Homo sapiens: one gene and its partner. The protein of the gene in region 1 interacts with the protein of each later gene in a pairwise test. Each region holds a gene or a part of one and is shown on either strand. Other genes may lie near its edges.

Region 1 (4,016 bases):
GCCCCACTGCACTCCAGCCTGGGCGACAGAGCGACTCCGTCTCAAAAAAAAAAAAAAAAAAAAAAAAAAAAAAAAGAATGAAGAGCCAGAGCCAGGCATAGTGGCACGCCTGTAGTCCCACCTACTCAGGAGGCTGAGGCGGGAGGATCACTTGAGCCCAGGAATTCAAAGCCAGCCTGCGCAACATAGACCCTGTCTCTAAAAATGAATTGGTTATAAAGGATGAAGAAAGGAAGGAGGAAAGGGAGAGAGAGAAGCCCTTATAGAGTGGGTGCATTTCTTGTATGTGGGGCCACTTTGTAAGAACAGGATTTTTCAAACTGGGCCCATACTGGTATGTGTGAAATCAATTTAGTTGGTTATGGCCATTTTTTTTTAAAAGGAAATATCAGTGATCACTATAGTGTAAGTATATTGTTTCGTGAAACCCATCTTAGTTATGTATTATGTCTGTATGTGTGAGATTGTGATATAAAATGTATTTCTGTGGTTAAATATTCAAAGAAATTGGAGAACCATTGCTACAAGGGGACAGAGGACTCCGTGTGAGCTCTCCTGCCTTCCCTGAGTAAACTTACACAATTTAGTGCTGGGACATTTGAGCCTTTTCTGAAAATTTGAGTCAGGGAGAGCATCTTGAGGAGGTGGGAAGGAAGGTAGAAGGAGCAAAGCAACACCCCCCTGAAGCCTGGGAATATTGTCAGAACCTTAAATATAATTCAGCTCACCATTCTGGGTAAGGACAGACTCTACCAATGAAAATGGGTGATTACCAGCTGTGAAACACAAAAACATACTTTTACGGTTACACATTCCTTTACAAACAACCGTGTACATTTCAGCCTCCTGCCCCACCATTTCTTTTCTCCAGGCGGGAAGGCTGCATGTTGAGGTGGTCATAGAATGTTGAGTATCATACTTTCCTACCTCGCTTTTATTTGCGCGGGTTTAAATGCGCCTTAACAGAACCCGTGCAAAGGCTTGCCAACTGTCTGGCTGCACCGGATGAGTAGAGCATCTTCCTTGGTGGCAGGTGGGTGCGAGGAGGAGGGGGCTGGGCTTTTCTCCGGACGGGTGTTTGCCCAGAAGACCATCATCCCTGGACTACGTTAGGAGGAAGTGGCACCGCTCCGAGGTAGGGGAAGAAGGGTTATAAAGGGGGGAGTCCACCACACATGGTCTTGAAGAAGCTTTTATAAAAGGCAAAGGCATCTTTGCCGGACGTTGTTGCAAAGGAGTAGAAACAAGCAGACGAAAACATCCCAAAGGGTAACCACTAGCGTTCCTGCTTCTTGCAACATTCATCCCAGGCTTCCAGCTCAGCCCGCCCCAGGCCAGGTGATCGGCCGCCACATCCCCTGCGACTGAAGCACCTGCTCCTCCATGAACCTGCCAAGAGCTGAGCGCCTTCGCTCCACACCGCAGCGCAGCCTCCGGGACTCCGATGGGGAAGACGGTAAAATCGATGTCCTGGGAGAGGAGGAAGATGAAGACGAGGTGGAAGACGAGGAGGAGGCGGCGAGCCAGCAGTTCCTAGAGCAGTCGCTCCAGCCGGGGCTGCAGGTGGCCCGGTGGGGCGGGGTTGCGCTTCCCCGAGAGCACATCGAGGGCGGCGGCGGCCCGAGCGACCCCTCAGAGTTTGGCACCAAGTTCAGGGCACCGCCAAGGTCTGCGGCGGCCTCTGAAGATGCCCGGCAGCCGGCAAAGCCCCCCTACTCGTACATCGCGCTCATCACCATGGCCATCCTGCAAAACCCGCACAAGCGCCTCACGCTCAGCGGCATCTGCGCCTTCATTAGTGGCCGCTTCCCCTACTACCGCCGCAAGTTCCCCGCCTGGCAGAACAGCATCCGCCACAACCTCTCGCTGAACGACTGCTTCGTTAAGATCCCCCGCGAGCCGGGCCACCCAGGCAAGGGCAACTACTGGAGCCTGGACCCCGCCTCCCAAGACATGTTCGACAATGGCAGCTTTCTCCGGCGTAGGAAGCGTTTCAAGCGCCACCAACTGACCCCGGGAGCCCACCTGCCCCACCCCTTCCCTCTACCTGCTGCACACGCCGCCCTGCACAACCCCCGCCCAGGCCCTCTGCTTGGGGCCCCTGCCCCGCCGCAGCCAGTCCCGGGGGCCTACCCCAACACCGCCCCCGGGAGACGCCCTTACGCTCTGCTGCACCCGCATCCTCTTCGCTACCTACTGCTCTCGGCCCCCGTCTATGCCGGGGCACCGAAGAAAGCAGAAGGCGCGGCCCTGGCGACCCCGGCACCCTTCCCGTGCTGCAGCCCTCACTTGGTCCTCAGCCTTGGGAGGAGGGCAAGGGTCTGGCGTCGCCACCGGGAGGCGGATGCATCTCTTTCAGCATTGAGAGTATTATGCAAGGGGTCAGGGGAGCGGGTACAGGGGCTGCGCAGAATTTGTCCCCGACCGCGTGGAGCTACTGCCACCTGCTCCAGCGACCATCAAGCCTGTTGCATCCCCAGACCGCTGCCCCTTTGCTGCAAGTGTCCGCCGCCGCCGCTGCTCGGACAATTTTGCAGCAATAGCAGCAGCATCAGGAGGAGGACTGCGCCAACGGCTGCGCTCCCACCAAGGGCGCGGTGCTGGGCGGGCACCTGTCGGCCTCGTCGGCCCTGCTGAGGTATCAGGCAGTGGCAGAGGGCTCTAGGCTGACATCGCTGGCTGCCCCTTTGGGCGGAGAGGGGACCTCACCAGTTTTTTTAGTATCGCCCACGCCCAGTTCCCTGGCCAACTCCGCAGGGCCCTCCTAGAGCCAGGTGGGAGTGGGGAGCGACCCGCAGCTGCTCACTCCACCTTGCGCGGCCCATACTGGGCGTGTGCATCTGAATCCCGCTGGAGAGCAAACACGAACTTCTGTTCGCTGCAAAATGGTTAGAAAGAAACAGCTGGATTACGTTCCTCTAAAAACCACCTGAACGTAACCTTCGCAGGGCGTCAAGTCATCTTTTCTTGCCTTCGGTTGTGGCTTCTATGGCTGTCCCGATTTGCGCATTTCCTGGGGTACTATGAACGTGAGTGGGGTATTTTGTTCTGGCATTAAAAGAAAAACAAGCAAGCAAACAAAAACACAGCCTCCGATGCCAAACATGTTCCCCCTTCTTCACTTCCTTGGAGCTGGAAGTATTATTCCTAAGTCTAGTGCAAAATGCTTCTACTCTCTGTGTCTTCCTGATAGGGATGTTTAATGTAAGTAGGATATTAATTTCAGAACATTGATTTCTTATCTGTGTGTCTGACGTGCCATCTTTAATGTTAAAATTAAGGTGTTAAAATTAAGCCTAGTTATATAGACGAAATAAAATGCTAAGTCACTACACTACATCGTTTATTTTCTATTACATCTCATTCTTCCCTTTCTAAATGGAACTTTTTAAAACCTACGTTATTTTCCCTCAAACAATTTATTTTCACAATTCATATTTATTATAGATAGCAGAAGTAATCCATTTTAATATGGCCTTTAAAAATTCCAAATATTTGAGGTTGAAAATGTCCTGGCTTTTAAAATAGGAAATTTACTATTTATGAGACTTCTAAAAGAAAAGAATAGGAGGGCATGTAAATATATTCTCCATTTATTTTTCATCACCCCTCAACAAGCTGGAAAACCATTTGAGATAAATTTGGAATGTAGTGGCCAACATGTACTCAGAGAAAATAAAAGGCTATAAATTATATATATATATATATATATATATTTTAAGCACTAGAATTTTCAAAACTTATTTCTTAAAAAAAAAAACAACTCTGAAAAGACTTTGCAACTAGAAAGGTTTAAGTGTTACTCGGCGTCAGGGGACGGAGTGGGGGGAAACCAGACAAGAACGCCCATCATGAATTGCTCCCCACAAAGAAAACAAATTTCTAGGAACTTGGCCGTTTTCCCCTGTCCTGAGTGGGGTTCCCGATTCCGTGCCGCTTTGAGGGAAGCTGCTCCGTGAATGTGAGAAAGTTTTTCCCCCAGCCCCCATCTACTCCCCACCCCCAGCTATGAATTT
Region 2 (3,500 bases), on another chromosome or scaffold:
AGGGAGTGTCTTCCTAGGTTGCCAGAGAACAGAGCCTGCTAGCTCCCTTTTGGACCCCACCCTTGGGGCCCCCCACCCACTACCTGCCCAGCCGTGCTCACATTACTGCGGGGGCCTCGGTGCCGGCTGGAGGGCAGGCATTTCTCCTGAACTTCTAGGAGCTGCTGGGCTCTGTGGGAGGGAGTGACATCATGTGTGTAGAAAGAAGGAAAGCTCCTCATTTCTCCTCGAACCCCCCGCCCTGTCCCAGAGGATGGTGAGGGAATGCAGGTGGAGGGAGAGCACCCCCATCTGAGCCCTGGCTCCCAGGGGGACCCCATCCCCAGCTCCTGGCTCTGCGTCACCTCTGATAATTGGGCACGGTGCCCCGGTCCAGGTCCCGCAGAGTGAGGGGGTCAACCCGGGTGCAGAACCATTCCTGCCTCCGCTTGTATGCCGAGTCCACCAGTCGAAGGATCTCTTGGGCTTTCACGCAAAGGGCATGGGGATCTGCCCTCTCAGGCAAGGTGAGGTTGGCACGAATGTAGAAGGGCTCGGCACCTGGTCCCTTTGCCCAGGCTTCTAGGGCCTCGTGGAAGGACTGGCAGGCTGGGCATGGATGGGGCAGGGGGCAGCAAGGAGGACAAGAGGAGGATGGTGAGGTCCAGGATCGGCCTTGGTGGGGCCAAAGACATGGCCCTCTCGAGGCCTGAGTTCCCAGGACCCGACCTTCACCTTCTTAGAATGACTTAGGTCCAGAGGGGGCAGGGACTTGCCCAAGGCCAGTGCCTTCTAGAAACAGAGCCAGGACTCAAACCCAGGTCTCTGGACTCCTAATGTAGTGCTCCTTTCACTGTAAGCTGCTTACAGAGGGAGGCATAGAGAAAGGGCACAAGGACAGACAGAAGGAGGCATCAGCAGGCGGGGAGCCAGGAGAAGGGCAATTGGGGCAAGGCTGGTCCCTTCTCAGGTCCTTGGTCCCTCCCCACCCCATGCACCACGGGTTAGAGGACCCCTCTGGGGCCAACAGCTCCGACTCCCAAGCCAGACTTACCCTTCGAGTCCATCAGGGAGGGGAGTGTGGACCCCTGATTCCAGAGCAAGGTTCTCTGCTGGGCCTCGGCTTCCAGGCACGCCCCCTCCAGACCAGCAGCTTCCACCCTTTGCTGGGAGAAAACCCAGGCAGGGAGGGAAAGAAGTGAGCCTCTGAGAGTAGAGCAGCCCAGGGGCTGGAGGAAGACCAGGTGTGGGGGTGTTTCATGCCTCACAGTTCAGATAGCGCCCCCTCAGAAACTGCCATGCCCAGCCCAGTCAGACCCGTCCCCATCCACAGGACGCCCCCATCCACAGGACTCCCCAACCCGCCCAGCTCATCCAGGTCTTTCTCGACTTGAAGCGCAGGAATGTAACGTGCTGTCAGTTGGCTCCACCTCCCAGTCCCTGCCCAATCAGACTTCAATTAAGCCTGGCTGAGCAGGCAACCACAGCTAATCACTGAGCCCGCTTCGGCTTTGACCAATCCCCAGAAGCTCTGCCCGGTGATCTTGATCCACCAAATTAAGGGATGTCCAGCCTGGGCAAAAGCACTGACCCTACCCCCCCAGCTCAGGAGGCAGGGCCTCACCTCTCTTGGTTCCATCCTGGCGGACCCAGGCCCAGACAGCACCCTGCGCACCACAGCCCCAGACCATCTGTCCCCATAAAACGACAGTCCATCTGGTCCCTTGTCCTGCGGCTCTGGGCCCCCTGGGGGGCTCCGGCCAGACACCCGAATAGCCAGAGACCTGAGAAGGGAGAAAGGAGATGAGAATTGGAGTCCAATCAGTACTTGGATTCAGTTCAGCATTCTTGGAAAACCACAGTGATTTCATTTCCCAAGTATGCCATGACTCCCACCCCCAGGCCTCTCCATCTTCTGTGCCCTCTTCCTTGCCTTCTCCACCTGGGAAATGCTGATCATCCTTCAAATCTCAAGTCACAAGCAGCCTCTCCCCTGGACCTGGGCACACGGTGCAGTGGAGCCTGCGTGCCACAGAGCACTCCAACTTTGCCTTGCCACGGCCCTTTCGTTTCCTCCATCAGAACGAACACCTTCAGGACCAAACTTCTATACTGTTCCGCTCTGTAGCCCTGGCACCAAACCCAGTGTCTGGCACATAGCAGATGACTAATAAAAGCTTGTTATATAGCCAAGCACGGTGGCTCACGCCTGTAATCCCAGCACTTTGGGAGGCCGAGGCAGGCGGATCATGAGGTCAGGAGTTCGAGACCAGCCTGGCCAACATAGTGAAACCCCATCTCTACTAAAAATACAAAAAAATTAGCCGGGCGTGGTGGTGGGCGCCTGTAATTCCAGCTACTTGGGAGGAGAATTGCTTGAACCCAGGAGGCAGAGGTTGCAGTGAGCCGAGATCGAGCCACTGCACTCCAGCCTGGGCAACAAGACTGAAACTCTGTCTCAAAAAAAAAAAAAAAAGCTTGTTATGCTCACAGTCTGAGGAGGGAGGTCACCATTAGCACGTGGCACAGATCCAAAGGTGGTTACAACCAGCCGTGGAAGCAGAGAGAGGCTTCCCACGGAAGAAGTACCTAGGCTACACGCTGGTGAAGAATAGATGCACTTTGGTGACAGATGGAGGAAACAGAGTTCCAGGCTGAAGGAATATATCAGAGCAAAGGTGTGGAGGACAGAACACAGGATGCGTGGAAGAATTTAATAATAACAATAGCAGCGAACACTTCCTGGGTGCTTTCCATGTGCCAGACACCATGCTGAGCTCCTTGCCCTAATTCTTATTTTACATCCTGGGAAGCAGCTCCCAGGAAAGGCAAGCTGGAGCCACCCTTTGGAGGGCGTGGAACAGAGGCGTCTGGTTTTCCTCCCATGGGCAGGAGGACCACTGACAATTAAGACGTCACCAAAATCCCCATCATGGTAGGGTTCTGCCTGTCCCTGGATGAGAAAAGGTGAGGCCTTGTGGCCAGGCTCAGAGACAAATGGACCCCAAGTCCCCTGCCAGACACCTTGGCCTGGAGGAGGTGGGGAGACCAAGGTCAGCAGGTGTGCTGGCTGGAGAGGCAGCGGGGCGAAGCATCTCCATCCACCCCAGCAGCTGCAGCCCAGACACAGCTGCACTGCCCCCTGCTGCCAGCCTGGGGAGGGCGCGGCTGCAAGGACCTCCCACCCAATCGGCACTGCTGGGGAACAGCCCCGCCCTCTCAGGTAAGACACAGAGCCAGGCCGAGGGGCTGGACAGATGCAGGCATGGGAGGCATCATTCAGTGCCGCATGTCCTGGCTGCATCGAGGTGGCATGGAAAGGGGGCAGGCCTGAGACCTGGCCTGGCTATGCTGGCCCTGGCTTTGTGGCTGGAGCACACGGTCCGCTCCAAACCCCAGGGCAAACTGCACCCTAGCCTGGGCAAATGAGCCGGCTGCTGAGCGTCAGTTACCACATGCATAACACGAAGCTGACAATGACACCCCTTGCCCTCTGTGGGTGCTGGGGGGTGGGGGGGGGG

What was found. Proteins that work in one complex are often made in the same cells at the same time.
Region 2: the proteins of FOXD4L3 (region 1) and CARD10 interact in binary tests that used the Homo sapiens proteins (3 or more experiments, as listed by UniProt).

What each region holds. Positions count from the first base shown.
Region 1 is NC_000009.12:68,301,569-68,305,584, forward strand, and holds FOXD4L3 (forkhead box protein D4-like 3), read left to right. Parts: upstream 1-1,298; 5' UTR 1,299-1,383; coding exon 1,384-2,637; 3' UTR 2,638-3,516; downstream 3,517-4,016.
Region 2 is NC_000022.11:37,495,416-37,498,915, forward strand, and holds part of CARD10 (caspase recruitment domain-containing protein 10), read right to left. Parts: intron 1,764-3,500; coding exon 1,604-1,763; intron 1,146-1,603; coding exon 1,034-1,145; intron 589-1,033; coding exon 345-588; intron 172-344; coding exon 102-171; intron 1-101. UniProt on the Homo sapiens protein: Scaffold protein that plays an important role in mediating the activation of NF-kappa-B via BCL10 or EGFR.